Linked DNA regions of Homo sapiens. The protein of the gene in region 4 purifies or fractionates together with the protein of the main gene of each other region. This does not show direct contact. Each region holds a gene or a part of one and is shown on either strand. Other genes may lie near its edges.

What was found.
Region 1: the proteins of TBX20 (region 4) and TLE3 purify together in Homo sapiens (affinity purification with mass spectrometry; 3 studies listed by BioGRID and IntAct, with this or other methods). This does not show direct contact.
Region 2: the proteins of TBX20 (region 4) and TLE1 purify together in Homo sapiens (affinity purification with mass spectrometry; 3 studies listed by BioGRID and IntAct, with this or other methods). This does not show direct contact.
Region 3: the proteins of TBX20 (region 4) and TLE4 purify together in Homo sapiens (affinity purification with mass spectrometry; 3 studies listed by BioGRID and IntAct, with this or other methods). This does not show direct contact.

The regions. Positions count from the first base shown.
Region 1 is NC_000015.10:70,094,906-70,101,872, forward strand, and holds the start of TLE3 (transducin-like enhancer protein 3), read right to left. Parts: upstream 3,013-6,967; 5' UTR 1,894-3,012; coding exon 1,870-1,893; intron 1,848-1,869; exon of another isoform or gene 1,775-1,847; coding exon of another isoform or gene 1,772-1,774; intron 1,357-1,771; coding exon 1,256-1,356; intron 737-1,255; coding exon 673-736; intron 1-672. UniProt on the Homo sapiens protein: Transcriptional corepressor that binds to a number of transcription factors. Inhibits the transcriptional activation mediated by CTNNB1 and TCF family members in Wnt signaling.
Region 2 is NC_000009.12:81,583,158-81,588,550, forward strand, and holds the end of TLE1 (transducin-like enhancer protein 1), read right to left. Parts: intron 4,720-5,393; exon of another isoform or gene 4,672-4,719; coding exon 4,524-4,671; exon of another isoform or gene 4,518-4,523; intron 2,499-4,517; coding exon 2,348-2,498; intron 1,368-2,347; coding exon 1,291-1,367; intron 1,149-1,290; coding exon 1,041-1,148; 3' UTR 526-1,040; downstream 1-525. UniProt on the Homo sapiens protein: Transcriptional corepressor that binds to a number of transcription factors. Inhibits NF-kappa-B-regulated gene expression. Inhibits the transcriptional activation mediated by FOXA2, and by CTNNB1 and TCF family members in Wnt signaling.
Region 3 is NC_000009.12:79,574,944-79,581,971, forward strand, and holds part of TLE4 (transducin-like enhancer protein 4), read left to right. Parts: intron 1-1,189; coding exon 1,190-1,234; intron 1,235-7,028. UniProt on the Homo sapiens protein: Transcriptional corepressor that binds to a number of transcription factors. Inhibits the transcriptional activation mediated by PAX5, and by CTNNB1 and TCF family members in Wnt signaling.
Region 4 is NC_000007.14:35,251,084-35,258,863, forward strand, and holds the start of TBX20 (T-box transcription factor TBX20), read right to left. Parts: upstream 3,018-7,780; 5' UTR 2,538-3,017; coding exon 2,411-2,537; intron 1-2,410. UniProt on the Homo sapiens protein: Acts as a transcriptional activator and repressor required for cardiac development and may have key roles in the maintenance of functional and structural phenotypes in adult heart.

The DNA.
Region 1 (6,967 bases), on a different chromosome or scaffold from region 4:
CTGAGAGTTATTTAGCACTGTGTCGAAGGCCTCTTATGTGGAAAGCAGTGCAGGGAGCCGTGCCCTCTCACAAATGAAGATTAAAACTTGCTGGGCAAAAGGAAGACAGTCTGCCTACTGCCCCAGCGTGGAGAAGATACCCAGCTGGGGGATCCCTGAGGAGGGGAGTGGAGGCAGAGAGAGCTTTACAAGGCCTCTCCACTCCTCACAACACCCTGGGGAAGGAGGGCTTCTGTCCTACTCTGGCTAGATCCCAGCTGCAAAGCAGAAAAGTTTCCAAACACTCCCAGGAGGTCACTAAGAGAGATTTTTACCAACCCTAATTTCACATGGGCTGGTCCAATCCTATCTTACTAGCCAAGATAGGGCAATGGCAATCAGCCCCTGGGAAACTTTCAAAACACAAATTAAAGGCACATAAAGATAGTACAGAAGTCTCCGGCCTGGAATCGGGGTTTCTCTTTCTGCCCCTCCCCTCACTCACCCTCCTCCAAGTGGCCCCGGCAATGGAAGCTGGGGAAGGGGAGGGCAAGACCAGATTATGCCCTCTCTCAGGGCCGCCCTGCGGCTGGGCGGTGGTGGGGACCTGGCGCTCATCTCCCCAGATCCACGCCGCGCCCCCGGCCGGGGTCGGCGCCCCAACCGCCCCCCAGGCCCGCGGCCGCATCTCACCATCACATAATGGCGCTGCATCTCCGTCTTCTCGTTTGCCAGCTTGTCGTACTCCACTTTGAGGCTGCGAGGGCAGGAGGAGCCGGCTCAGGCGTGGCGCCTGGACAGCCTCCTCTGAGGCCCCGACCCAAGGGCCTCTAGAGCCACTTTTCCACTTTCCTGACACCCCCCCGGGGGCGCCCCCATTATCCCACAGCCTGGGGACGCGGGGGGATTTGGGTCCCCGCCGTGGGGAGGGGGATGTGAAACAATTCGAAACTTCCCGCGAGCCAAAGGACTTATCACGGCAGCAGGGGAGTAGGACCCTGACGCTGGCTCCCGACACCCAGAACCCGGAGTGAACCCGCTCGCCGCGACCTAGACCCTCATTCGGGGACCCCACGGGCGGCGCTGGGAGCCGGGCTGCTGCGGGCAGTAAAGGGTTAAGGCGGCGCGCTCGGAAAGGGGAAACAAAAGGCGGAGGCCCGGGCTGCCCCGCCGCCCCTAGGTCGGGAGCCCCCTCCGTCCCCGCGGGGGATGGCAGGAGCCGCGCAGGGGACCCACCCCTCCCCGCCAGCCCCGGGGCGGCCCCCACCGGCCTTACCTGTGATACTGAGCTTGCAGGAACTGGAATTCGTCTTTGATCCTGTCACAAGACTCAGCCACCGTGAATTTAAATCCCGGCTGCCCGGGTTGATGGGGAGCCTGGAGCCCGCGAAGACAAGACAGGGGAGGGGGCGGGGGCATGAGACCGCGCTCAGAGCGGCCCCGGCCCCTCCCCAACGGCGCCCAACCAAAAGAGGCCACCCTCAGCCCAGAACCTTCCCAGCAAGTTTCTCAGCTCTCCGACGGGGCGGAGGGGGGGCGCCCCATCTCTCCCCGTCGGCAGCGGGGCTCCCATGCCTTTCACCAAGGGCCTCCCTCTCCCCAGTAAGGCGGGGGCGGGAGACAAGCCGGGTGAGTTGGGAGACTTCAGAGCGGGGCCGGGGACCGCGTGAACAGCTCCCCCTGGAACACAAGCAGCCCCCCGCGCCACTCGCGCGGAATTAACCTCCTCTCTCAACGGCGCCCCCCGGCCGCATCCCCCTTTGTGTGAGAGCACACACACAAACACACACACCATAAAGGTAGCAACAAGCAAAATGGAGGTGCCAGATAAACTGCCTCGTTTACCCTGCCATGATAGATGCTTAAATAAACCGAGTTGCAATTACTCACCGGATGTCTGCCCTGCGGATACATGGCAGGGAGGGGTCGTGATTCCGAGAGCGTGGAAGCGCCGAGAGCCCGGGCCGGGGAGGTGCGGGGGAGGGGGGAGCCGAGCCCGAGCGGGGGGCGGCCGGGAAACCGAGAGCTCGCCCCCGGCCCCCCCAGCTCGTTCTCGCAGCGAAATCCCAGAGTCGGGCGCCCGCCCCAAGTGGAGACAAAGAGCCGCGGAGCAGGCGGCAAAGTCGTCGGCGGGCGCCGGGGCCGGGCGGCGGGCGCGGGCTTTGTGCGCCTAGGGCTCGGCGGGCAGCGGCCGGCCGCCTTCCCTGGGCTGCGTCGAGCGCGTCAATGCCTGGGACTGCGCGGACATCGTCGGCTCCCCAGCAGGTCCGGCGCGGGGTCCCGAGGCCGGGGGCCCCTCCTGGGGCGAGCTCGGGCCCCCTCCGGGTCACTCAGCGGGTCGCGCCTGTAGGGGGGCGCGCCGGGGCAGCCCCAAGCATCCGGGGCGCGCGGGTCCGATCCTAGAGGCGTCCGGGCCTGGGGCTCGCGGCGAGAAGAGGAAGGAGGCGGGCTACGAGGTGGTGGCTTGGGGCCGCAGGAGCGCCGGAGGGTGAGGGCGGGAGCCCGGCGCGGGCGCTTCGACGCCCCCCCTCGGAGAGGAGAGCCTGCTGTTCCGTCTGCTACTGCCGCTGCCGCCGCCGCCGCCGCCGCTGCAAGCCCTTCCCAGGGCCGGGGAGGAACTCCGGGCTCAGTAGGTGCAAATCAAACGCCCTGGCATCCTAAGTCCAGCGGGCACGGGAAGCCTCCGCAAAGGGTTCTCGCTGCTCCCAGCTTGAGCACCGCGTCCCCACCGAGGAGCGCTCAGCGCCACCGCCGCTGCCGCGTCGGAGCGCACAGGCAGGAGAGCGCTGGAGGGGAGACGCAGCCCGAGACCGGGGAGCTCTACGGCTTCCTTCCTTCCCCTCGGCCCGGCTCTCCTCTCCGCGCCCCGGCAAACCCCCAAAACACACACACCCAACACACACACACGCGCGCACGCACACACACACACACCAAAAAAAAAAGTGCCCCGGACCTACGGATACCACACACAGACAGGCGAAGGGGACGAGCACGAGGTCTGAACTGCCGCGAGAGCAGTTCCAAATAGGGACTGAAAAGTAACAAAATAATGTGGCAGCTTCGTCCGGCGCTGGCCAATGGGAGCGCGGGGCCCCCACGTGGGGCTGCGGGACTCGGCCTACGACTGGGTGCCGCTGGGCGCGACGTCACAATGCCCTCTTGTGTCTAAAACTATGCATGAAAAGTAGCAATCAGGCCCTACCCGCTGGTGACTTTCGCATGGGAGTGAAAAACAGCGCTCCTCAGATCAGGAATTAACCGAAAGACATATAATAAATAGATATATATTATAGTCCTGGGCTGCTCGAGTTTTTTTCCTCCTTTTTTTTCCCACGGTCTACTAGCAAATAATTATTTAGCGGGAGGAGGAAAGAGGGAAGACAGAGGAATAACAACAAAAGAAAATAAGACAAGCTGTACAATCTTCAAAACCTGTGGCTGGTAGTAATGTATCAGTTTATTCTGCAGCGGCGGCGAACGATTCCTCCCTCTAATCTCATTAGGTCTGCAAAGCAGCCCAATTAGATACTATAAAACAAACAATCACTTTGTCACTTTAATGTTTTCACTTCAAAAGATTTAGGACTGATAAAACGGTGGCTCCTAAAGTTGCCTCCGACCTTTAAAAATTTGCTCGGAACTCAGGATGTCCCCTTTTCTTCACCCCTTCTTCTGCCCGCCTCCCCCACATTAGCCCCCAGCTCTCCTTTGTTCACTCGCCCTTCTTTTCAGAAAGCCAAATAAACAGCTCCTTTGATGTGCGGCGGCTGCCTGCGAGGAGAAGTCTGAGGGACTCTGGCTAGGCGGGCAGCGCAGATGGAAGGGCCCGGCTGCCCGTGGACAACAGGCTCAGCCACGGCTGGCCCCATTCGGGGCGCCTTCCCCGTGGGCACAACTTCACCCTCGACGCAGCCTCGCCGCGCGGGCTCCTCACTGCATCCCCAGGCTGAGGGGGTTGGGGATGGGGTCGGGACCCTGCTCGGCCGAGGCCCGGGAACTCCGAGTTCCCACCTGGTTTGCTCAGCCTGCTCCCGGCAGTGCCACGGCGTTGGCGGAAGCCTGTAGGTGTCTCGGTCGCTAGCCTGGACACTCCGAGGGACGCGGACGCTCCCCCGCTCGCTCGCCCCGGCCCCGGGCCCCCCGGACCCCCCGCTTGGTCGCACAGGCCACTCGACTCCGGGGCCAGCTTGCCCGCAAACCGATGGCCTCGCCCTCCCGCGCTCGGGGTTACGGCGGGGCAGACGAGCAAGCAGGGAGTGGACCTCAAAGCGCGCACCGCCCGGTGGACGGCCAAGGCGGGACCCCCGGGGCCCTCCCCGGCAAGTCCGCGAGCCCGCGCGCGAGCCGGCCGCGCGTCCCCGGATCTATATTTTCCCCTCATTAGGAGCCGGAGGTTCGCTTTTGCATCTTAATGAGGAGCTGAGAGCTAGCGGGCGCTCGGAGGCCGGAGCGCGGGGAGTTACACGTGAGCACCCGCCTCAGAACTGAACCTCCCCGCGCCCGCTCCGGCCGCCAGCCCCGAACCGCGCTCCCCTCTTCATTTATTTATTCTCCTAAATAAAAACATAAATCGTGTTTCGGCGCGCACCGAAGACGGGGGAGGGAGAAGCCCGGCTCGACAGATGCGAGCATCTGGCCGCAGCATTCATTAGAAACAAAATGGCTCCTCTTTGGCGCTTCCTTTCCCCCTCCCCCTTCTCTGCCCTCCCCCTTACGTCACGGGTGGGCGCACCCGCTTCTTACTCGCCCCGCCCATTTCTCGCTCCAGCCCCACGTGGGGGACGCCGACCACGCCTCCGAGCAAGGTGCGAGTCACCAATCACGGACCGCCGAAGGGGCTCTTCGTTGCTGATTGGCGGAGCTGCTGGGCCCTGTCAGTCCGCGGCCAGAGCTGTCAGTCAAAACCACGCGGGGTGGGGGAGCGCTGACAAATGCCGAGGCTTCTGAGCCTCCCGCTTGCAAATAGTGCTTGGAATGGCTGCTTAATTAGCTTTGAATGGCTTTTCCTTCCAGCTCAAACAATCTGTCACTACCATGTGGTATAAAGGAGCCATGCATAAAAAAGTAAGCAGAGGCTAAATATCAATTTGATTTTGTGTATCAAAGGAATATTTTATTTTTCTCCCTAGTAATGAAACGTATCAATTTAAATAATAAAAGGTAAAAACACACACACAAACAAAAAAAAAAAAAAAAAAAAAGAAGAAGGAAAAGAAAAGAGGAAAAAAAAGAAAGAAAAAGAAAACCCAAACTCTACGGTGTGGCGACTCCTGCGCACGCCTGAAACAGGTCACTTCCACAGCCCACGTTCTGGAGGAAGCCTGAAGACTTTCCCCTCCCCCCTTTAAACTTGCATTTAGTGTTTTGTTGTCGTCGTCCTCCAGAAGTCTAGAAGGAGTGGTGGAGGAGGGGTGGCCTGTGAAAGGGGACGTGGGGGCGGGGGAGGGGGCGAACTTTAAAGGGAGCTCTTTGAAGCTGCTACTCAAAGTAGAGGGGGTTTTAAGACCCCGTAAACTGGGGGTCCTACAGCAGGTCTCGATTTGGGAGCTGAGAGGAGAGGGGGATGAGAGCGGGTGTGCGTCTCGCTCGGATTTATTAAACACAATGCCTTCAAGATGCCAGGGACGCGGCGCCTCGCCGGGCCTCCCTCTCAGTCTCCCTCTGGACTGGCTCCGACGGCGCCCGCCAGCAGGCGGCCGAGAAGCCGCGGGGCCCCCAGGTCGGGTCTTCCGAAGATTGTGTACAGAAAAGGACAGCAGCTCTGTCTCTCGCCCGGGTGTCCCTCCTGCCCCGACGTCCACGCCCCCCGGTGACCACACGAGCCAGAGCGCTCCAGCAGGGCAGACCCACGTCGAGTTCACCTGTGAGCCCCAGCGCCAGGGCCGAGCCCGGCACGCTGGAGGAGTTCGCGGCTGCGTGTCCCCGACGCGGTTTTGCAGAGCGCCGCCTCCTCCGCAGAGCCGGGCGGTAGAACCACGCTACGCAGTCAGGAAGAACAGCGCTTGAGCGCTCACTAGGTACAAGGCAGGGCACTGCTACCCAGGCAGCGCTCTCCTCTCCCTTACCTCACTCCCGAGGGAAGCAGTTTGGCTGGGGACCCCATTTTATAGAGCAAAAAAGAGAGGCTGAGAAAGCTCAATCATTTGCCCCAAGCTGGGCAGAGGGTCAGGATTCGAATCCAGGGCAGCCAGTTTAATGGCCAACCTCAGCGACCCCTTTGCTTACGCAAGCTGGATACGTGCAAGTTTTTGCTGAAGAAAAGGCATTCATTCATTCATTCATGCCCAGCCCTTTCTGAGAGCCTGGCTTTGGGAGAACAGGCCTCTCCTGCCTGTAGCTCCCACTCACTCCTCACCCAGCGTCACTCCCCGCTCTCACCGGCTGCCTGAACCCTGAGCAGGAAGGGGGCAGGGAGGTAAGGAACCAGGCCAACATCCCTTTAAGCTTACCACCGCTATCTCCCCGCACCCCCCCACCCCGCCCCAACATGCCACCCCACAAATTAGGAAAAACAAGGAGAAAAATACATGTCTTTTATGCTGGAGAAAGAGAAAAGAAAATAAAAAACATGTATACAACACCCCGTCCAAAGGCTTGACAATTATTTTAAAGAAGGAGGGGAGTCGAGAGAAAGAGTTCAAACGTCTCTGTCTCCAGTTCTAATTGGAAACGTTTCAACTGTTTATGTTACAAGAAGTGTCAGGGTCATTTGCTACCGGAGAGCTGACTTTTCATTGGCTGCTTAATTGAGTACCTCGGAGTCCACCCCACGTGGGAGAGGAATTCCTGGCACATTAAAAAAAAAAAAAAAAAAAAAAGTCACCCGGGTGAGACAGAAAGCCCGGCCTGGATTTACAGAGCAGCGGCTCCCCAGCCCCCAGCCCCTTATTTGGGGTGCAAGGTGGCTGGTGAGCAACTGTCTGCCAGTCCGAGGAGCCACTTCTCTGAGTCTTTTAAAATATTCTTCAAGCACTTTAGCTGAGTTAGT
Region 2 (5,393 bases), on a different chromosome or scaffold from region 4:
ATGTGATCATGCCATTGCACTCCAACCTGGGTAACAAACAATGTGAACTCAAATCTTTAAACAAAAAAAAAAAAAAAAAAAAAGGAGAGAGAGAGAGAGAACGAAAGAAAGAGAGAAAGGGAAAGAGAAAGGGAAAAGGAAGAGGAGATTGGGCCTTCCTAGAAAAAGGAATATTTTGCCTTCCAATGAATCACCAGAAAAAAGTAGAGCTTTAATCTTTGACCTTGAATCACAATAGTATCATAACAAAAGAACAAATCTTGATGAAGTAATTTTACTTTCCTAAAGAAAACTGTCATTAGTAAACCTTCAATTACTCACAATTCCTAGTCTTGAGCTCCCAGTAACTCAAGCTTGTGAAGGATTAGGTTCTAATGCAATGGGAGCCTACCACCAAATATATTTATAAAATAAGCAGTGCAATTCAAAACTTCCTCTACAAATGTATAATCTTTGCTTATAAAACCCACATTGATGATCCCAAAGCTTTAATAAAAAACAATAAAGAAAGAAAAGGAAAACCACTTATTGGTACTAAAGCCTTTACTGTAATAAACCAAATATATTTACAATTTATACAAATGTTTAACCTTCAACAAAAATACAAAAAAACATTTCACAAGATGCAAAACCAGGAAACAAGTTCATTGGAGACACCACTGCTCTACAAAGGACGGAAAGTGAGGTGAACTGCAAGGAACAGAAAGGTAATCTCACACTTGGGCAAGGCGTGATCCCCAGATCACCCAGAAAGAAAGAATGGGCTGTCATGTGAGTCGGCAGATTCCGTTCCTCAATCCTACAACCCATGGCCCCTCTGTCCGCTTGGCCTTGGTGCTCCATTTGGTCTATGTAGACAGGTGACTTTCTGCTGATGGACTTGTCGCCTCCTCTTTGTAGACTCAAAGTAGTTTTCTGTCAAGGTTTGGAAACAGGTGTTTGTAATTTTTTTTCTCTTTTAAAGTTACAACTTTTCTATTTCTATAAATTCGAAACATTTTGGCCCAATTCAACTATAAACGTTAAACCACATAATGTTTTCAGTAGATGACTTCATAGACTGTAGCCTTCTTGTCCCCCGAGCCAGTGACTATGTACTTATCATCCACAGAGATGTCACAGCTAAGCACTGACGAGGACTCTTTGGACTGGAAGAGAAAACAATGGACATGTGTTTAATGTGGAACAACGGTACTCAGAGGCCCTGCTCCCTCGGAGGCACCTTCACTCCTGGCTTCAGAGGCGACACTGTGGTCAAACTGTGGATCTAGGTGAGGAGTACTTACTCACCTGGAATATGCTGGCTCCATAGGGGGTCCGCCAAGCATTGAGGAGGTTATCTTTTCCAGTACTCACAAACCATTTACCTAGAATTAGCAAAGGAATATCTAGTTTTCACAAGGTTAAAATTCCTACTATACAATTAGCAACTTGGACTTAATCAAACTAAGAACATTTTTAATATATGAACTATCATGCCCTAAGGACTGGTCCATGATATGAACAGAGGTTTTAATCTGGGCTCCTCAGTGATTTATCAGTGATCTTGGGTATAATCTAAGAGGTATCAGCCTCCTTAGTCACTGGATACAGGACTAGTAGCATCATATCCAACACACGGTAACCCTCAAATATAGAAATCAATGAAGAATGTGTTCTATTTTAGTCAGTCTCCTCATGATAAAATGGGATTAAAGATTCCCATCTTTAATGGGAATTAAAGGATTAAACATCCAACTTAAGTAAAATGCCAGTCACATCATATAGCATGAAGAAAAATGCTCAATAAGTGATAGGCACTCATCCACCCATCCATCCATCCATCCATCCATCCATCCATCCATCTATGCATACTGTGAACAGATATCTGCCCATCTGCAGCACACAAGAAGGGTCACCACATGAACTTCTTCCCTCTTCATCCTCACTGTAGAGTAGAGTGTAACTAAGTGTCTGCGTATACCTAAATATCGACTTCTCTAACCCTGGATTCCTCATCATGGCCAGCTCATAATGACTTCCACTGCCCCTGCTCCATTCTTCAATAAATTCCCGCCCACCCCTCTTCAGAGTAGAAACTCATTGTCGTCTCCCAACCCCTCCAAAACAAACTTGTGTCCAAACCGTGTATTAGGCAATCACATTGCCTGCTGACTTTTCTCAAATTAGCAAAACAGACTGAAACAGACATTGCTGTGCTCTGAAGGGCATATTAAAACAATAGAATTATTGCATCCAGCTGCTCGGAGAACATTTTTTCCAGATTATGATCTCTACCATATTTTTTTAAGAAGCATTTTCCATTTGGGCCATCAACGGCCTCCAGTTTCCTTTCGGCTGAACTCACCACAGTAAGCAAATTTCAGGGACAGCACGCAGCTCTCATGCAGGTGCAGCTGGTACTTGTCAGGCTTGTTCACGTGCAGCACCTCCACATTGCTGCTCTCCATGCCCACTGCCAGCCACTCCCCGGTGGGGCAGTACCCCAGGGAGAAGATCTACAAGGAGCAAGACAGGCTCACTCATTATTCCGCCTGATACACTTAGGAAGGGAAGACGCAATGTGAAAAGTGGGGAAATAGCAAGAATGGGGGGAAGTAATCAGCCAAGTCCAGACTGTGGGGAGGTCCACAGGGCAAGTGATCTAACGCAGATGAACCAAGTGTCAAAACCTTTAGGAAACTGGAAACATTTGAACCCCTCTGTCTTTTGGGATAAAATTAAGAAATGATTCCTAATAATAATGGCATTCATCTGTACATTTTAAAGGAGGCTTTACCTTTTAGAGACACTAACTGAAATACGATCATATATCACCTATCAAGGGGGATACATTCTGAGAAATGTGTCGTTAGGTGACTTTTTTTTTTTTTTTTTTGAGACGGAGTCTTGCTCTGTCGCCCAGGCTGGAGTGAAGCGGCGTTATCTCGGCTCACTGCAAGCTCCGCCTCTTGGGTTCACGCCATTCTCCTGCCTCAGCCTCCCAAGTAGCTGGGACTACAGGCGCCCACCACCACGCCCGGCTAATTTTTTGTATTTTTAGTAAAGACGGGGTTTCACCGTGCCAGCCAGGATGGTCTCGATCTCCTGACTTTGTGATCCACCCGCCTCGGCCTCCCAAAGTGCTGGGATTACAGGCGTGAGCCTCCGTGCCTGGCCTTGTTAGGTGACTTTATTGTGTGAACTTCAGAGAGTGCACTTACACACACCTAGAGAGTGGAGCCTATCGCTTGTAGGCTACAACCCTGCACAGCATGTTACTGTACTGAATACTGTAGGCAACTGTAGCATAACGGGAAGTATTTGTACATCCAGATACATCTAAACATTGAAAAGGTACAGTAAAAATATAGTATTATAATCTTAAGGGACCACTGTCACATATGCGGTCTGTCCTTGGCTAAAAGGTTATATGGTGCATGGCTGTGCTTATGGATACAATGATATGCTGCTAGAGTTTATTTTAAAATAATCCAGTGTCTGGGGGTGGGAACGAGAGTTATCATATGGCCAAATAACTTCAAGCTGAGCGATGGGCATGTGGCATTTATTGTACAATTCTCTGTGCTTTCATAAATGCTTGGACATTTGCTGTACTCATATGTATTTGAGAATTTCTCTAAGAAGTTTTAAAAAAAGGCAGAACAAAAATTGTATCCTGCTTATGTTGGGAAAGAGTGAAAACAGCAAGACTCTAAGAAACTCAACAAAATGTTAACAGGAATATGAAATTTAGAAGTATATATGCTTGTTTTCTGTTTCTGTCCTAGTTTTCTGAGTAGAATTATTTTTATTACAAAACAAGGTAAAAAATAAATGCCAAGTCATGATCGAAAGAACAATTCTACCACCAGAAAGCATTTAAAATGGCAAACACTGTTTTTTCCAAAACAAGTCTACATTCAGACATTGGACATCAAAATACTTTTCACAATCTACAAAGTTGCCATTTATACATTATTTCAAAAGTCTGCAAATCTAGTCAGCCACCAGTTCATTTTTTAAAGGATGAGGAATAAAATGGGTATCACTGAGGTATCTGTGCATTTTTTTGAGCTCTCTGGTGCGGGGTAAATAAATGAACTTTCAGAGGAGCTGTGACTTTTCTCTACTCTTAGTGACATTCTGCAGATTTCTCAAGTTCTATTTATTTAGGAATCAAAAAATCATCTCCTACTCCTGCATTAGATGGTGAGAATATGTGCCACAGATCAAACACTGCTGAAGGAAAACTATACATTCTTCAATGTACAAATCCCTTAAACAAACTCATATGTAAATATAACAGAGAACACACCTTAACCTACAGGATTCTAAAAACCACTCTAGTTTTGGGGAAGGTAGGGGGAGGGTCGTGAAGGAGGAGGTGGTGGTCATTGTTTTTAAATTAGTTATCTCAAATTCAGCCCTGATCTGTTTGTCCAGCCACTACCATCCTAGGGTAAAGGAGGGAGGGTTGTGAGGAGGAAGACACACCCCAGCCACCTCCCAGACTCCAGGGCAGGCGGAAGCCACTCAGTCACCTGGGAGGTGAAGTCGTGCTGCTGCAGCTGCCGCCCCTCGCGCAGGTCCCAGGACCTGACTGTGTTGTCCAAACCACCCGTCCAGAGCTTGGTGCCATCATTAGAAATGTCAATACAGCTGGCTCCGTCTGTGTGGCCCTGGAATTGCCTGATAAAACAAACCAGATTGAATAATGATTTCCTGCCAGAGCTCAAGGTAAACACTGTTGTGTTGTTAGTTTTGGACCGTGTGTGTGTGTGTGTGTGTGTGTGTGTGTGTGTGTGTGATCCCGCCAGTGTCTGCTGATGTGCAAGATCAAACTAACCTTCCCCTGAGGAGGAGGGGAAACAGCACCTGCGATTGTCTTTCCCTGTTTTCCACGATCCAAGTGCTAAAGAAATGGAATGCCACTGCAGGTCACTACCCAGAACTTAAATATGCTACTCTGACAAAACCGTCTGGAAGGTAAAATTCTTTCCAGGTCTGGAAAAGTGTTTAATTGTTAAATAGAAAATAAAAGACAAACACACAAAATCCCGATTGTATTCCTTATGGGAAGATAAAGGTCTGTTCTTTAATCGTGCAGGCCTGAGTCCGTGAGAGAAAGAAATGGGGACGTTACAAGCACAGGGTGTACAGAAGCATTCCTGTTTCCATGAGTGAATCAACACAGCAATGCCCTACGTGCCAACAGAGCATGAGCTCATGTATTTACTCAACCTTGCTTTCTGTGTTAGAAAGAGCCCTGCATTAGGAAATCTGGACTCCCAGAGACAAAGGGTCACGCATGCCGGCCTCCTGACCTCAGAGGCATTGGGCAGAGACACAGGTAATTGCTGAGGCAGACCCACGGGCACCTCAGCAAGACTCTGCCTCCAAGCGGAGCACAA
Region 3 (7,028 bases), on a different chromosome or scaffold from region 4:
AACCATGTCACAGATTCAAAGTGCCTATTAGTTTGGAATACCAAAAACAAGAATATGTTTAAATTGCTGGGGGCTGCAAGATAGATCACAGTCACCCTGCCAGTGCAGTTGAAGTTGTGGGAATATGTCTATTAGCAACCTGTAATTCTAGGCTGTTATAACTTGCCTTTGACAACTGGCTTTGATTGGAATTTTCAGAAAGTTCAGCCACATGGGGTATAATTTTCTGTGCTTTGTTTTTACAGATCGAAAAAAAATAAAAACAAAACCTTGTTTGTTTTGTCACAAGCAAAAATGTTTTTGTGTTAGTGGCTTTCTTTGTTGTTTTATTGCTCTTGCTCCAAACAATTTTTGCCAGTTTTTCTGTATGCTGTTAACATTGTAAATGTCTTATTATTAAAGACATTATTAAAAAATAATGTTTTATTTCTTTGAAAAGGAGTGATGGATAAGGAAAGACAGCAGACCATTTTTCAAATTTTTTTCTCTTTATGTTACTATTACATTAATATTTGTATGTTTTCAATTTCTGTAGTGTTATATTGGTTTGAGGAATGTTGTAGTCTCCTGTATAACTGATGTGTTCTGCCAGAATTTCTATGCCAGTTATACTACACGTTCAAAAAACCAGATCTGCTTTTACAGAAGTATTATGAAGCATATTTTTATGATTGTCCAAGAAAGCTCCAGAATAACCCACTCATTTATTTTTCTATCTAGCTTTTTTGCTTTGAATGTGTGAATATGAGCAGTACACTAACAAATCAGAAATCAAACTCTAAGTAGCATCACCTTTTCCAACCTTCCTTTCAAAACATCAGCGTTTGTATAAGGCATTCTTTGCTGTTAACTTGCCTGCTGTGCTTAGGAATTAAGAGTCCGTAGGATACCAAATTTTCATCAGACTTTTTTGATGCATCTGCTTGGGATGTATAAAGAAACTGGAGATGTTAAGAATGCTGTGTTTGAATTTAATTTTTCTTAGTTTTGTGTGTTTTCTCTTAGAATTTGTGTCTTAAGGTGGTTAAAGATAGTGATGGGCTCTTGATTTATTGGCATAGGTTATATGAAGATACTGGTTTAGGTGAGGCTTTTATGTTTGTTTCAGATTTACTTGGGGCATTTTGAACAAACTAGGGAGATTGTTTGATGAAAGTCATGCATTTAATTGCTTTTCCTTCTTTGACAGTATTATGAAATGTCCTATGGGTTGAATATAGAAATGCACAAGCAGGTAAGTTATTTCTTTATAACCATTTTAAATGACAGTAATACTGGGACACTATGAAAAGAAAATTGTATGTTTTGCAGTTTTATTCTGCAAGCCGTTGTGGCTACCTGTATTTAAAAGTCTGGGTAGTGAAGAAAATGCTGTTTTTTCATGTGTGGCTCCCCATCTTTCTTTCATATTATCCTAATTTTTATAATTTAAAAATGTTATTTTAAAAAGTCTGAATACATATTAAACTCTGTACACTTTCAAAAGCAGGATGCTAAATTTTAAAATCCTCTTGTTATTCTTCTGAAAGAGTTGCTTTATGTATTTTGGGCATTGCAAACTTGTCTTGTGAAAGAGCTTTTCTTGGAAAATATTAAACAGTAAAATTAAATTGTGTGGCGCCTTCGTTGGCTTGATGTGAAAGAATGGATAGAGGGTGAGCTGGGAGGATGAAAATGAAATCTGTGGAGCTACAAAAGAAATTGATGTAAAATCCTTGTACTGGTCCCCTGAGGCTACTTAGTTGGGTCTTACCAAGAACTATAACCGTTACTTCCAAAATTTGTACAGAGTAAATGAGCCTGATAGGAGGATGTGATAAGGTTCAACATTGGGTCTTGAAATCTAGCAATTAGTTCAGTAGCAAAAAAAAAAAAAAATGATTAGTCAGAAAGCACTGAGAGATACGACTCAAACAGTCTTCTTTTTGTGCAGGAGACTGAATAAAATGGTTTGGCTTAAATTTCCTAGACAGAAGAATAATAGCGGGTATATCTATCTATATATATATATACACACACACAAATATATATACATACATATATATATATAAATATTGTTTGGCGATAGTAATTCCTCTAGGAAGCATTTATTTTTAGTGATCTCCTAGTGGAAGCACTTCAGGTCTCATCAGCCATTTCAGAATAGGTGTGTATGTGTTTGTCTGCTGGGAAAAAGACAAGGGAAAACTTACTGCTTTTCATTTCCTATTTATGGTCAAGGTGGATGTCATTACTTTCTAAGTTGAGAAAATATGAAATGAGCACATACTATTAGGCCTTCACTATTTATGGATTCCTTTTTGGGTATAGTTATTTTCTACATGCTCAGAACATCCCAGATAGTAGATCTTTAAGAGATGGCTGTTAGACAATAAGGCAATCTGATGAATAGTATTGGAAAACAAAAAGTTGGAAAAAAATGAGACGTTGCTTACATTGAGGACTTTTAATTTCAGATACTGTTTTACTTTGTATGCTATTTGGTTATGTCAATATTAGCATTATAGTATAGTTTGAATGGCCTGTTGAAATTAAATTCTTATTTTGGCATCTTTGTCATTTCTGTTTAGATTAGTAATGTAAATATCTTCTGCTTAAACAAAATCTGTTCAATCTTGTGGATGGACTTCTCTTAGTTCTACCTTACAGGAATAAATTACATGAGAGATATTGTTTGTTAATTATCCCATTACATTTCCTTTGAGGTCTGGATCTTGTGTATGTCTCTTTTTTTGTCTGCACCCCACTCCCCAAAATTAATTAGTGTCTTTTTAAAGATTGGACCAGATGATTAATTTAGTCCCTTTATTTCTCCTTCTGTATCTTGTTTACCCTAACCACTTAGTTTCCAGGTCTCCTTGTACCATCTACATTTCTAAGAGGCACATAGCTTGTATTTGGCTGTATGTATTTCTTTTTCGAGGGGGTATGTGAAATCCCTTAATTTTACACATTTTATACTGCTATAATTCTGTCATCTTCTTGTCCAGCTAGCCTCAAATGCCATCCATTTAAAATTGAGAACAGTACATTTTCCCTTTTTTTCGTTTCCTTTTAAATTCAATCATATCAAGAATCCTGAGGGCAGTTTATCACATTATGAAATACAGACAGCCCTGCAAACCACCTACTTATTATATTTTCTTTCTTTCTCCCCCTTAAGCATAGAGGCATATCTGTCTTTATTTGTTTTCCTAGGCAGACAGCCTTAGTTCCTCTTAGCCTCTCTTCCAGATGTACTCGCTGGATACCCTTGTAATGGAAAGCAGCAATAATGCAGGGAAGTTGCCCTGCGGCATAATTGGGCCTAGTTCTCAAGATCGGGTTAGGTTTATTCACTTATTAGATTTGTGTCTCGAAGGGTTCAACAGTAGGAGTCCCGGGAGCCCTTGGAAGTACCCTAGTAATTGGTGGCCCTGATATTTGAAACCTTTGTGTATTTTTTGGTTAACGTTCCTGTTCTTCTTGGCTGCTGCTAGCCACAGAATATTTATTTTTAGAGAAATTTTTCATTGGAACAGAAAATGGTGGTTGTGATGCAGTCATGGCTCTGTGACTTAGCAAACTGATAAAAAGATAAAAGTATGAAGCAAAGACAAACAGGGTGGAGGTCGGTGTTCTCCCTCCTACCCTTTCTATGTGGTGCTCATCATCAGTCCCCCTGTGTTGATTCTGATAGAGAACTATAAAATGAAACCTATGGGGAATTTGTCATTCTGAAATGAAAGCTAATGTAATTAGTACCAATTAAAGTACATTTAGTAAATTGGATTTAATCTTAATTAAGCCTGCATAATGTTGCCAATTTTTAACAATTATGTTTGAGAACATAATTAATTTAAATTTTGGTAACTGAGTAAATAGCATTAGTCTGGTAGAATTAGTGGATTTTTTTTTTTTTTAAAGGGGAACTTGGTGATATGACGTGGAATTGGAACATAAAATATGAATCTAAATTTCTGGTAATCTTTAGGATTGATAGAGCTAAGCAGATGAAGCAAAAAAAAAAAAAAGGATGAAGTATTCTAGGCTATAATGGGAATTAATGCTGTGCCATTGTCTCAAGTTCTAGCATAAAAGTGAAGATGACAAATAGGACATGGTTAGAAATGGCACATGTTTTAGTGTGACGTCTTCAAAATGGAATTTTTAAAAATGAAAGAACATAGGCCCTTATTCCCTAAGGATTTCCCTAAGTGTATGGTTTTTGTTTTTTGTTTTGTATGAGACAGCTGACCCAGGGTTTAGTTGTTAAGTTTTTTTGCTGATTGTTCTTCTTTGTAAATACAGTGTGGCTTCTAAATGGGTTGGTGGCTTCTAAATGGCACAGTGGGGTGATGCATGGAGTTGATAGCATTACTAAATGCTGCTTCTTCCCATCTTTCACCTGTAATGCTGTCATTAAAGAAGTCCTCACTGATGGACTCTGACAGCAGTGGTTACCATTCTAAAAAGTGAGTATTGGATATAGATTAGGAACAGTAGGTATGTGAATTCAACCTATAGGAACTATATGGAGATGAACATACCATCTTTTGAAAAGGGGAGCATGAGAACATCTATGACTTCCTTATAGTTAGTATTCTACAATGTGAAAGCTTCTTCATTTGAATTTTAGTAATCATCAGGAAATTTTAGAAATCTAAAACGCATAGAATCTGAAAGTAAGTACTGCACATTTATGTATGTTTTATGTGTGTATTTTTATATGTGTGTGTATTTGTGTGTGTGTGTGTGTATATATATATGTATATTTAATCAAAGCAAGAAAACTCCTGTTTCACTTAAAGCCATGTAAATTTTATTACGAGACTTGGGCCACAACCATTTGAGTGCTGCTAAAATATTAATTGAATAGAAATGAAAGGGCCTTGCCAACTGATAGGATATCATAATCATAGCCTCTTTGGTCGATGGTAAATGATGATAAATGACATTAGGAACCTTTTAGCAAACTGTAATAACTACAAGGAGGGAAGCAGTATGGATTTGCATTGTATCTGATACCCTCTAGTACCAAGTGGATTGCCAATACTGCTTGTTTAGCATTTTCTAAGGGCAATAAGATATTGATTTCTGACTTACAAGGAACAGCTCTATTTTCACCATTGAAAAGTATTGCAGGTTGTTAAGAAGAAATTGACTTGAAGAGGCCGACTGCTGCCCATCATGGAGCAAATAAAGCAAAACTGCCGAAGCATGGTGGAGCAGCGAGACGGGCCCTCAGCAATTTGTTGCTATTAATTTACCATGCTCGACAGCAAATCAATCGGCATCTACTTCATCTGCTGGAGAAAATGCTGTCCAGGGCAGATAAAAGGCTCGGCATGGTACAGAGAATAGACTGGATTGGCCAAAAGCAGGCTGCAGTTAATGTGTAAATAAGTGAAATCAAGGCCACTGTTGCAGAGGAAGCTGTTGTTAATTAGGTTGGTGTTTTTTAGTGAACTATTTTAGAAAGCAGCTAGGATTTGGAGAGTAAGAAGAGATTTATTGAGATTGAAGTAATACATGACTGGCATGACATTCTAGCCTTGAGTGTACTTGAATCTAGGGTGCAGTAAATTTATTTGGGGACACTGCTTGCTATGAAGTTTGTTGAAAGTTCATTTTAGACCACATTTCCCTTATGATAACTTTTTTTTTCAACCTTGCCAGTTTTTTGCACATCTTCTGTCTTATTGTGTACTCTTAGATTTAGAAGAGTAGATGGAGGAGTAGGTGTTTTAGTATGGAGGCACAAATGTGTCTGTTATATTCTTACCCAGTGCCTTTTTTTTTTTCAGAGATAGGTATAATTGAACTCTTGTATAATAATGAGAGTGAACTATCATGGAAGATGGGGTGTTCTAGCTGAAAGTAACTAATAAATGAAGATTTTGCTGACAGAACTTTATCTTGCTTCAGAAATATTAGGAAATAACAATCTAGAGGGCCTGAATAGTGGGTAGATACTACTAGATTATAAAATCTTAAAGATGACAAGTGAAATTTTGATGTCTGCATAAACTTCAGATACAATTATAAGACTATGTGTGTGGGGGTGGGAAGGGTTCTTGTGTTTTTGGTTTTCATTAAGGTTTAAAGCCACCTTTTCTAATTTAAGATTATTTACACGCTGATAATATTCCACAATTAATGTTAACGGAGTGAAGGGTATTGGTGGTGTTTTTTCCCCTTTACCTCTCATTTGGGCATTTTAAAATAGGAGGCCAACTTCATTTACTCCTGTTTAGTAAATCTAAATGAGTGTAGGTTTTAAATTAGATTTTTTCCCAAAACCCTTCAGAAGGTCTAGTATTAGGGCAGTTGATAAGTAAGTGGAAGCACCTTGGGCAGGACCCAGTGACCTGTCCTTTTACTTATTACAGCACCTGCACGGGAAGCAGATCTGGAGGATGAAATTTAACCTGTTACAGTGTGTGTATGTTTTAGGGTGTGTGTTTTCCGAATACTGTGGGGAGTTCCCTTTTTCCTTCTCCCATGATGGATTCTTTTGTCTTTCTAGAGATACCATAGGAGGATATCTGGATTTTTCACCTAAGGCAGTGATTCTTGAGTGAAATTGGAATTTCCTTTCAATAGAAGTAAACATTTATTATATATCTGGCTTGCGCTTACCACTGGTCTGGGCACACTGCCAAAATTCTTATCGTTAGTTCTCATAATGATCCTAAGACAGGGATTATATCCAATCAAAAGTTGATTAAACAGGGTCAGCTCTGCACAAGGTGATACAGCTAATAGTTGGTGGATTCAGGACTTCAAATAAATTTATGTGGGAGGATATCTCCTGGGAGATGGGTTTGCTATGGGTTAGAGATTCAGGCCCCAGTTCATTCCTGAAATAGAGAGTCCCTGAACTTTAGGCTCATACGCAGAACCTCTTGAGTTGGGGGATTCTCTGCAACTGCCTAGAGTCCATGGATGGCTCAGCCTGCCCTCTGCTTGCAGACTGCTTTCAGTGGGTGAGAGGGTGAGGTTGCTTTCACTCGGAATCTCCCACATGTGGGCTAGGGAAGCTGCTT
Region 4 (7,780 bases):
ATGAACCAAACATTCTCCCCCACAGCTGATAAGGGCCTGGGACTACACCAGTCACTTTGATGGAATACAGGGAGACTTCTGTAATTGTCCCAATTATCTTCCATCCCTTAAAAAAGAAACTACTTGAATTTGCAATGTGAAGTTGATCTCTTAAGTGCCCTCAAGAAATCAAAGCCAGTTCTAAATGTATGTATGTACATGTACATGATGTGTGTGGGCATATGGGACACGCACAGATCATAAGGTGTTTTATTTCCTACACATCCGTACATGAAGAAAACAGGAAACAGAGTGGTTTTACTTTTACTTCTCATGCAATGATAATCCAACCCATGAAAATGTTTTAACTTAAGAATAATCAAATTAAATGCCATCCTGATTTTTTTCAGATTAACGAAAGGAAACCATACCATAACAAAATCTTATTTTCTACTAATATTTTCAGAAACACATTCACATAATGTCTTCGGAGGGAATTAAGAAGTAGTGTTAATGACTTTTTTTTCTGACAACTGAAAGAGGCAAACTCCCTAAGCCCCAGACTGACCAATGCATCAGGATGGGAAGTAGGAGAGGAAGAAAATGAAATAGAAATGCTTCAGCAGACTGAAGCTGTTCCTTTAAATAGACTTTGTATGTTTAAAAGGGCAATCCTGGGACACACTGGAATCCCCCTCCCCACTCTATAGTTTGCTTCAACAAAAGTCCCACATTCTCTCTTAACAGAACTTTTAGGTGTTTCTCTTGATAGAGTCCTTGGCTTGCAGTCACCTCTGTTGAACTGGCCAGTGTAAGCGACAAGAACGCCTGCTAGTTCTTTCAGAGCCCATCTCAAAAGCCAGGAGAGGGACATGCATTTTATACTAGTGCCTATATGTGTGTGTGGGCATGGGGGTAGGGTTGGAGTTGTGAGCTGGGCATGGCTTTAAAGTTCAAGATTTAGAATTTTCGATATAAGGTGGCTTTTCTCAGAAAAATAAAGAGAGAAGGAAGCAATGTTGAAATGACAGTGCAGCTGGGGCTGGCATGTTTCCCAATTTGCTGTCTACACTTCTGTCGGGAATCCTCTTTTCCTGCTATGTAACAAGCTGAGATGTTTACAAAGAATTCAGGGGCCCCTAAACAGCAATGTATAATGTTGAGAAGTCGCACAATATAACTTTGAAATTGTTAGTTATATTTTTCTAAACAATTGGATTTTGTTTGATTGATTGTCTCCATTCTTTGGCAGGTTTAGATTTAGATGGGAGGTGGGTGGGAAGAACCAGGGGAAGGGGGTGAAAACTTAGAGGACAGATTTTTTTTTTTTTTTGACATTCTGTTTTCTACAGATCTACTAGTTTCTTTTTCCTTGGTTTCAAGTAGCTACAGGAATTTTACTTCTCTCATCTTTAAGCCCAAACACCTTATTTTTGATCTCTAACACTTCCTTTTTTTCATGTTATCATTATTTTGGATGTGATATGTTAAGTGTGGGAAGGACAGAGAGAAGAAAGGAAAAATTGGGGAGGGTTAAAAAAGAAAAATTAACTTAAGTTTGCTATCTGATTTTCACATTGTAGTGATACCAGACGATCAGGCTGTGTAACAATTATTTCCTGGGGATCCACGAGGCAATGATGAGAACACTTCTTTTTCCCTCAGTTGTAAAGAGATTCTTAAATATTTATCTTGGGGTGGTTCTTTTCCATGTAATTCACTAGTGTTAAGAAGAACATAATCCCTGTTCTCCCTTTACTCCTAGCCTAGTGTCTTCTATAAATGGTAAAGGTTGTTAAACAAACAACATAACTAAAAGTAGAGGAATTTGAGAAATGGTTACTGGTTAGTGTTTTTGCCAACCTCAACTGAAAATGACGACAGTTATAAAATGATGTCTTGGTGATAAGTCTAGAGCTTCAGTGAATAAAATGGTTCGTGTAGGGAGAACTGGCTTATTCTGCTTTACAGTGGTTTCAAAGAGCTTGCTCTGTTTTGTCTATTCAAGTCAGAGGAAAACCAAAATTAAACTGGTTTCTTATGAAGTCCTTTAGCGTCTCCGTTTCAAACGCACAAGCAGGTGTTACATGCACAGTAAATCCTGTTGAGCCTTAAAAGGGGTTTTATTATTATTTTTCCATGAATGTTTTTAACCCAACAAACATACACACACACCATATGTCTGATCTGATATATGGATTCTAGACAACTTAGGAGACCGACGGGCCCAGATATAAGATGCACATTCACAGCATTCAACAGACTGAAGCCTCCAAAGAAAACTTGGACCCAAAAGAAAAAGATCTCCCACCCGCGATGTATGGCTCATGGCTTGAGCATCAGACGTTGCTGCGAGCCGCCTGCAGCCAGGGGCACAGACGGATGCGCAGCATCCCCAGTCCTCGGCGGACAGCCGGGTAGCCCAACTTACCCAGGGGTTTGATTGTGTTCTCCGTCGCCTCCTTCTCCTTAGAGCCGCCGCTCGACATGAGCGCGGCAATGGAGAAGGCGTTGGCCCGAGAGGAGAGTTGGGGCTTGGGGGACGCCGTGAACTCCATGGTCCCCAGCACGCGGTCCTGGCCAGGGACGGGGTCGTCCGAACTGCCGTCCAGATTCCCCAAGGGAGACAAAGACCCGAAACACAGCTCAAAGTTTCCGAGAGCAGTCACAGCGGGGCCAGGGACTCCAGAAGTGTCAGCTCCAACGACTCCAGAGCTGCACACTGGCCTCTATTCCCCACCGCAAAGCCCCAGAGCCGCAGAGACTTCGAAGGCAGCCGGAGAGGAGAGGGCCCACCGAGCACTACGGCGGGTGCGCACGCCCCGGGGCGCTCGGCAGGACGACAGTCTGCACAGCCCGAAGGCGGAAACGAGCATCAACTGCACAAAGTCCTGGGGTCCTGGAGCATCCCCTCCGCGTCCTTCCTCCCTCTGGGGCTGGGGACAGCCGGGATGTCCCAGGCTGAGGTGGCCACCAGCCGAGCGCGGCTGCTAGGACGCTGGCGTGGGGAGCGCGGCGCGGAACTACGGACAGTGAGCCCTGGCGCTCGCTGCCCTGCGCCTTAATTTGCTGGCGGCGGCGATCCCGGAGGCCCGCAGCCAGTCAGCGCCGTCTCACGTCACCGCTTCCTGATTCCGCCGCCGGGGGCGGGGCCGCGGGCCGGGCGCGGAGGGCGCGCCCAGGGTGCGGCGCCCGCGTGGCCTGTCGCCCCGGCTGTTCGGTACCCCAGCACAGGTTCAGGGAAAAGGGTGCCACCACTAGGCTGACGCAGCAGCCATGGACATCCCCACCTGGTCTCACAGCCCCGGGCGGGAGGGCGGTGCGCGCTGTCGGGAGAGGACACATCACCGCGGCCTAACGCCCGAGATCCGGGCATGGCCCAGTTGGGGAAGCTATGACCAGACCAGTGGAAGCCTCGGGAGTTCTCGCTTTTTCCATTCTTTTTCTTACCTGCGCTCAAAGTTCCAAAAGAAAGTAGGGAAGCGCTCAGTAGAATCCGGCGCCTCTGAGCCGGCGCCAACTGGCCAGGTCCATACTCGGGGCAGATCCCAGGGCTGGGACTCTCATTCGATGGTCCCAAATTTGATCTCTTTGACAGTGGGGCTGAGCAAATGCAGCCCTGAAAAAGATAAGCTTAGCGAGAGCTGCGGGCATTTGGCAAAGGATGCTGCTCTCAGAACCGTGGCTTCTGCTCCTCACCAGTGCGTCTCTAGCCTGGGGCTCCTATTTTCCCTAGAGGGACCCTGGAAAATGGGACGGCTGCCGAAGAGAAGGCGAAGGTCAGGGCGCGGAGCTCTACGGTAACCACGCGACGCGTAGTGGGAGAGTGCGAACCTTATGGTAGCGCCCGGACTAAGCGGACACAGACCCCTCTGGTTTTACAAAGGCGGCTGTGACGAGGACTTCCCACGGCCTTGTTGGAGGGCGTCCTGTTAGCCCTGCTCAGCCTGAATAACTCAAATTCTCCGAATTCGCAGGGTAATCCGCTTCGCTTGGAGCCGTGTAAACTCAGGCTGACATACACACTCAAGCTGTATATGTAAATATTTGTTCTCTTTTCCAGCCAGTCGGTCTGGCTATTAGAAGCCTCTTCGTGGGTCTTAAAATTAAAATAATAATAATAATTTTTAAAACTCCAACTTTTCACTGCACCACCCCCTACTCCTGAAATAAATTTGTGAGGGAAAACGGCAAGTTAAAATAGCTGTCGAAAACGTTTGTGTGAACAAAATGATGACATCTGGAAGAGTCGTGATTTCAGCCTGTCTTGGTCATCGTGTGTCAATAGTTTTTAACAAGGTGCTGGATGAAGGTGACTAAAAAATGCATTCTCATATCACTATCGAAGTTCGAAGTGTCGATTTATAAATGTTTGAGGAAATTCGTAAAACCATAGACTTTGGTGCTGGAAGGAATTTACGCTGTCTTCTAGCCGGTCTCCATGTGCGTTTGAGAGAGAAAAACAGGGCCCGACGTGGCAGAGCGCGCATCTCCCCCCAGTCCACCTCAGCGGCTAGAAGCAGACGGAAGGGCAGGACTCACACTCCGGGCCCCGACCCTCATCAGCCCCTGGCCCTGCAGCTGTGGCTGGGCTGTTAGCTGAAGAGCCAGAGTAGAGTTAACGACGGCTGGCAAGCAGAGGGCTTTCAGATTAAACCGCAGGATGCATCTGAGGATCCGTTTCTATTCTTAAATTTTTTGCTGGTTTTGGACAACCCAGACCCAATCCAGACCCCTTTTTTGGTTATTAAAGTCCCCCGCCCCAACCTGTCTCTCCCCAGACACACCTTCTCAATGTAAGTGACATTTCTTTGTATTGAGTGGAAGGCACACACTGATTCCTTTCCTATATCAAATGCTTAGGATTTGTCCAGAAAGAAAGATTTCCCTCAAGAAGTGGGGATTTTGGAAGGTCGGGGAATGTTATGGTTAGTCTAGACCTTGATATATGCTTCAACAGGGTGTGGCAAACCTTGTTAGCTGAATTTAGTTTTCAAAAACTTGCCGCAAAATTATACTTCATAAAAAAACCCTTTTGATTGTTTTTCTACACAGAGGAAAACAACTGTGTCTTTTCTTAATTACCTCAATGATTTTGACTGGAATATGAATAATATCATGAGAGGAACATTTTCAGAAAATTTGATGAAGCAAGGGAAAAACTGAATTGCCACAAATCTGTTTCCTCCTCCTTTCCAAGTGCCTACGCGGCCTTAGCCCAGCTCTGTGTCTCTTGTGTGCAGGAAACCCCGACTGCGCATCCTACTACAGGTAAAATACTATACAAGAAAAGATGAGTGATCGTTAGGAGGCAGGCGGCAAACGAGAGGTATTGAAAAGGCCACTTTAAACAAATCCGGGTGACCCGTTTGGGGATCTCTAGGCTATGCATCTTGTTGGTGTTGAAACCTCGGCAGTAAAACATATGCTGCAACATTATTATCGGGGGCACACCGTCCCTCCTCCTAGATTTATTGCCTTTGCAAATCAATATGATGCCATAAAAACGGGGAACCGGTTCTGGGCAGAGAGGTGCTGTCGAAGGATGATTCAAAGCCTTCCCAAAGCGGAGAGTGGGGAGTTCTGAGGTCCCTTCAAAACGCCACTGATAGCGCAGGTTAACAGGTAAAACCACCCGGGGGTTGGAACAAAACAAGCACGTTAACACATCTCTCTAGGCCCTTCTCAGGCTGACTGCTGGCAGCGGAAGCTGCTGAAGTCTTAATGTTAACTTTAACACACGCATTAGCCCGGAGACTTTGTGTAGGTTACTAAACCTCTCAAAGCTTCAGTTTCTTCATCTGCGTTAGAATAGGGCCAATAGTTCATTCCTACCTGGAAGATAGCTCTTTGGATTAATGCCCTAATGTGTATAAAAAGCCTAACACTCACAATAAACCCAACATAAGTAAAGCATAATACAGAATTTTAATCATATTTAATTTTGAACTGCAAATTCGCGATTGGAGAAACATGTCTCTCGGGTGCTCATATATAATGTAGATAGTTTTGGAATGTACAAAGAGCATTGGGGCCACAGGAGGGTATTGGATTGTTATTTACATCCCGTTTAAACTTTGGCGCCTAAGAATGTAAAATTTTGTTATACATCTGAGTTTGTTTATATGGAATTTGATTATATGGAAGACTGGAAGATGTCTCCTTATATACACCACTCTTTCAAATTCTCATTTGTAGCTCCCGGAACTCAGAAGACAGTCGACCCCCAAAACTGTCCAGGAAGTAATCGGTTTCCGGCTTTTGGACAATGGTCCCTCGCTTAACGAATGCTAACGAATGCTCCCTTAGCTGGGAGCTGCAGGGACCGGTCCCGGCAGGTCTAACCAACCGTCCGCAGGCGCCGTGGTCGAGAGCAGAGCCGAGACGGCGGGGCAGGGTGCCAAGCGGAGGGCACAGCCTGGCAGCCACCGTTGGCGGCAGGAGAGAATGGGAGAAGGGAGACCCGCTTCTCAGCACAAGGGCATCTGTCTACTCCCGAACATGGCCGGAGATTCCTGTCCACAGCCTCCCTCCAGCTCTTTCTGGTAGACACTTTAAAAGCGACATTAACGGGCTTCGGTGCCTTTGGATTCCTAAATTAGGTTTACGGAAAAGGAAAGACTTCCCAAGAACAGTGAGAAGAGGAACTGCAGCCCCTCCAAGGCCGCTGCGGCGCGTTCCCGGGGCGCGCCGAGAGCAGCGCGCGGCTCCGTGCCCCGTGGGGAGCGCGCGGCGCGGCCTTGGATTTCACCGCGAGTCGGGAGGGCGGGTCTGAGCCTTGCCTCCCAGGATCCTTCCGACGAACACCCCGCGGGTTTTAGTTTATCGAGCCAAAGTGGTCCCGGAGAAGCGCTCCCTCGCAGCCAAGCTGCAAGAAGTGGCCGGGAACCTACAGGCCTCGGGCCGACCCAGGAAGCCTCCGCACCAGAAAGCTCGAGGAGCCCTTACCCAAGTCTTGCTCGAAGGGCAAAGCAAAGAGCCAGCACCCCTGAGTGTCACTGAAGTTCCTGGATGGGGTGTGAGTGCGCGCGTTCCGTCCGAGACCTCAGTCTCGCCCAGCTATAGAGCCGATAAAGGGATGTCTTGTGGGCGTAAGGCGCTTCGCGCCCATCTCCAAGGCCGATGTGGTCAGGAGGTGAGGGGAAATGTCCTTCTGGCAGAAGCCCGCGGTGCTGCGACGTTGACCCGCCTGGCCTCAGGCTCAGGGCGGCGGGCAGCCCAGGGCACATGTAGTTTCAGCAGCCGCGCTACGTGGGCGGGGGACCCCAGGCCACCCCACGTGTCCGCCCTGGGCCTCCTCCGGGTCCCAAGGCGCGGCGCCTCCAGGCCTTGTAGCGTCTTCCCCGGGTCCCCGCGCGCCAGGCCCCGCAGCCTGCTCACAGGACAGCCCTCGGGGCTGCGACCCTCTCGCTCCTCCCCGCGGCCACTCGCTCCCCGTTCATCCCCCACGAGCTCACTACCGCAGGGACCGGCCCTCAGAGCCCCGGGCCTCCTCCCGGCAGTGGAAGAATCAGCGTGCTAACATTGTGTGCAAAACTCGCAGCGTGATCAAGAACTGCAAAAGAAAACAGAAAAGAAAAATCTCTTCTGATCCTGTGGGCTTGGAAGCCAGGCCTACTCTCCTCACACTCCTGCACCCTCCTTTCTCCTCCTTCCCCTCCTTCTCCTCCTCCACGCGTGCTCCCACCTTCCTTCTGCAACCTTCCTCTTGGGCAATCGCCGCCTTCCCAAGGGCCCGGCTGCTGACGTATACTATTTATTTTGTATATCATGATTTTTGTATGAATTTTGACTTTTAGAA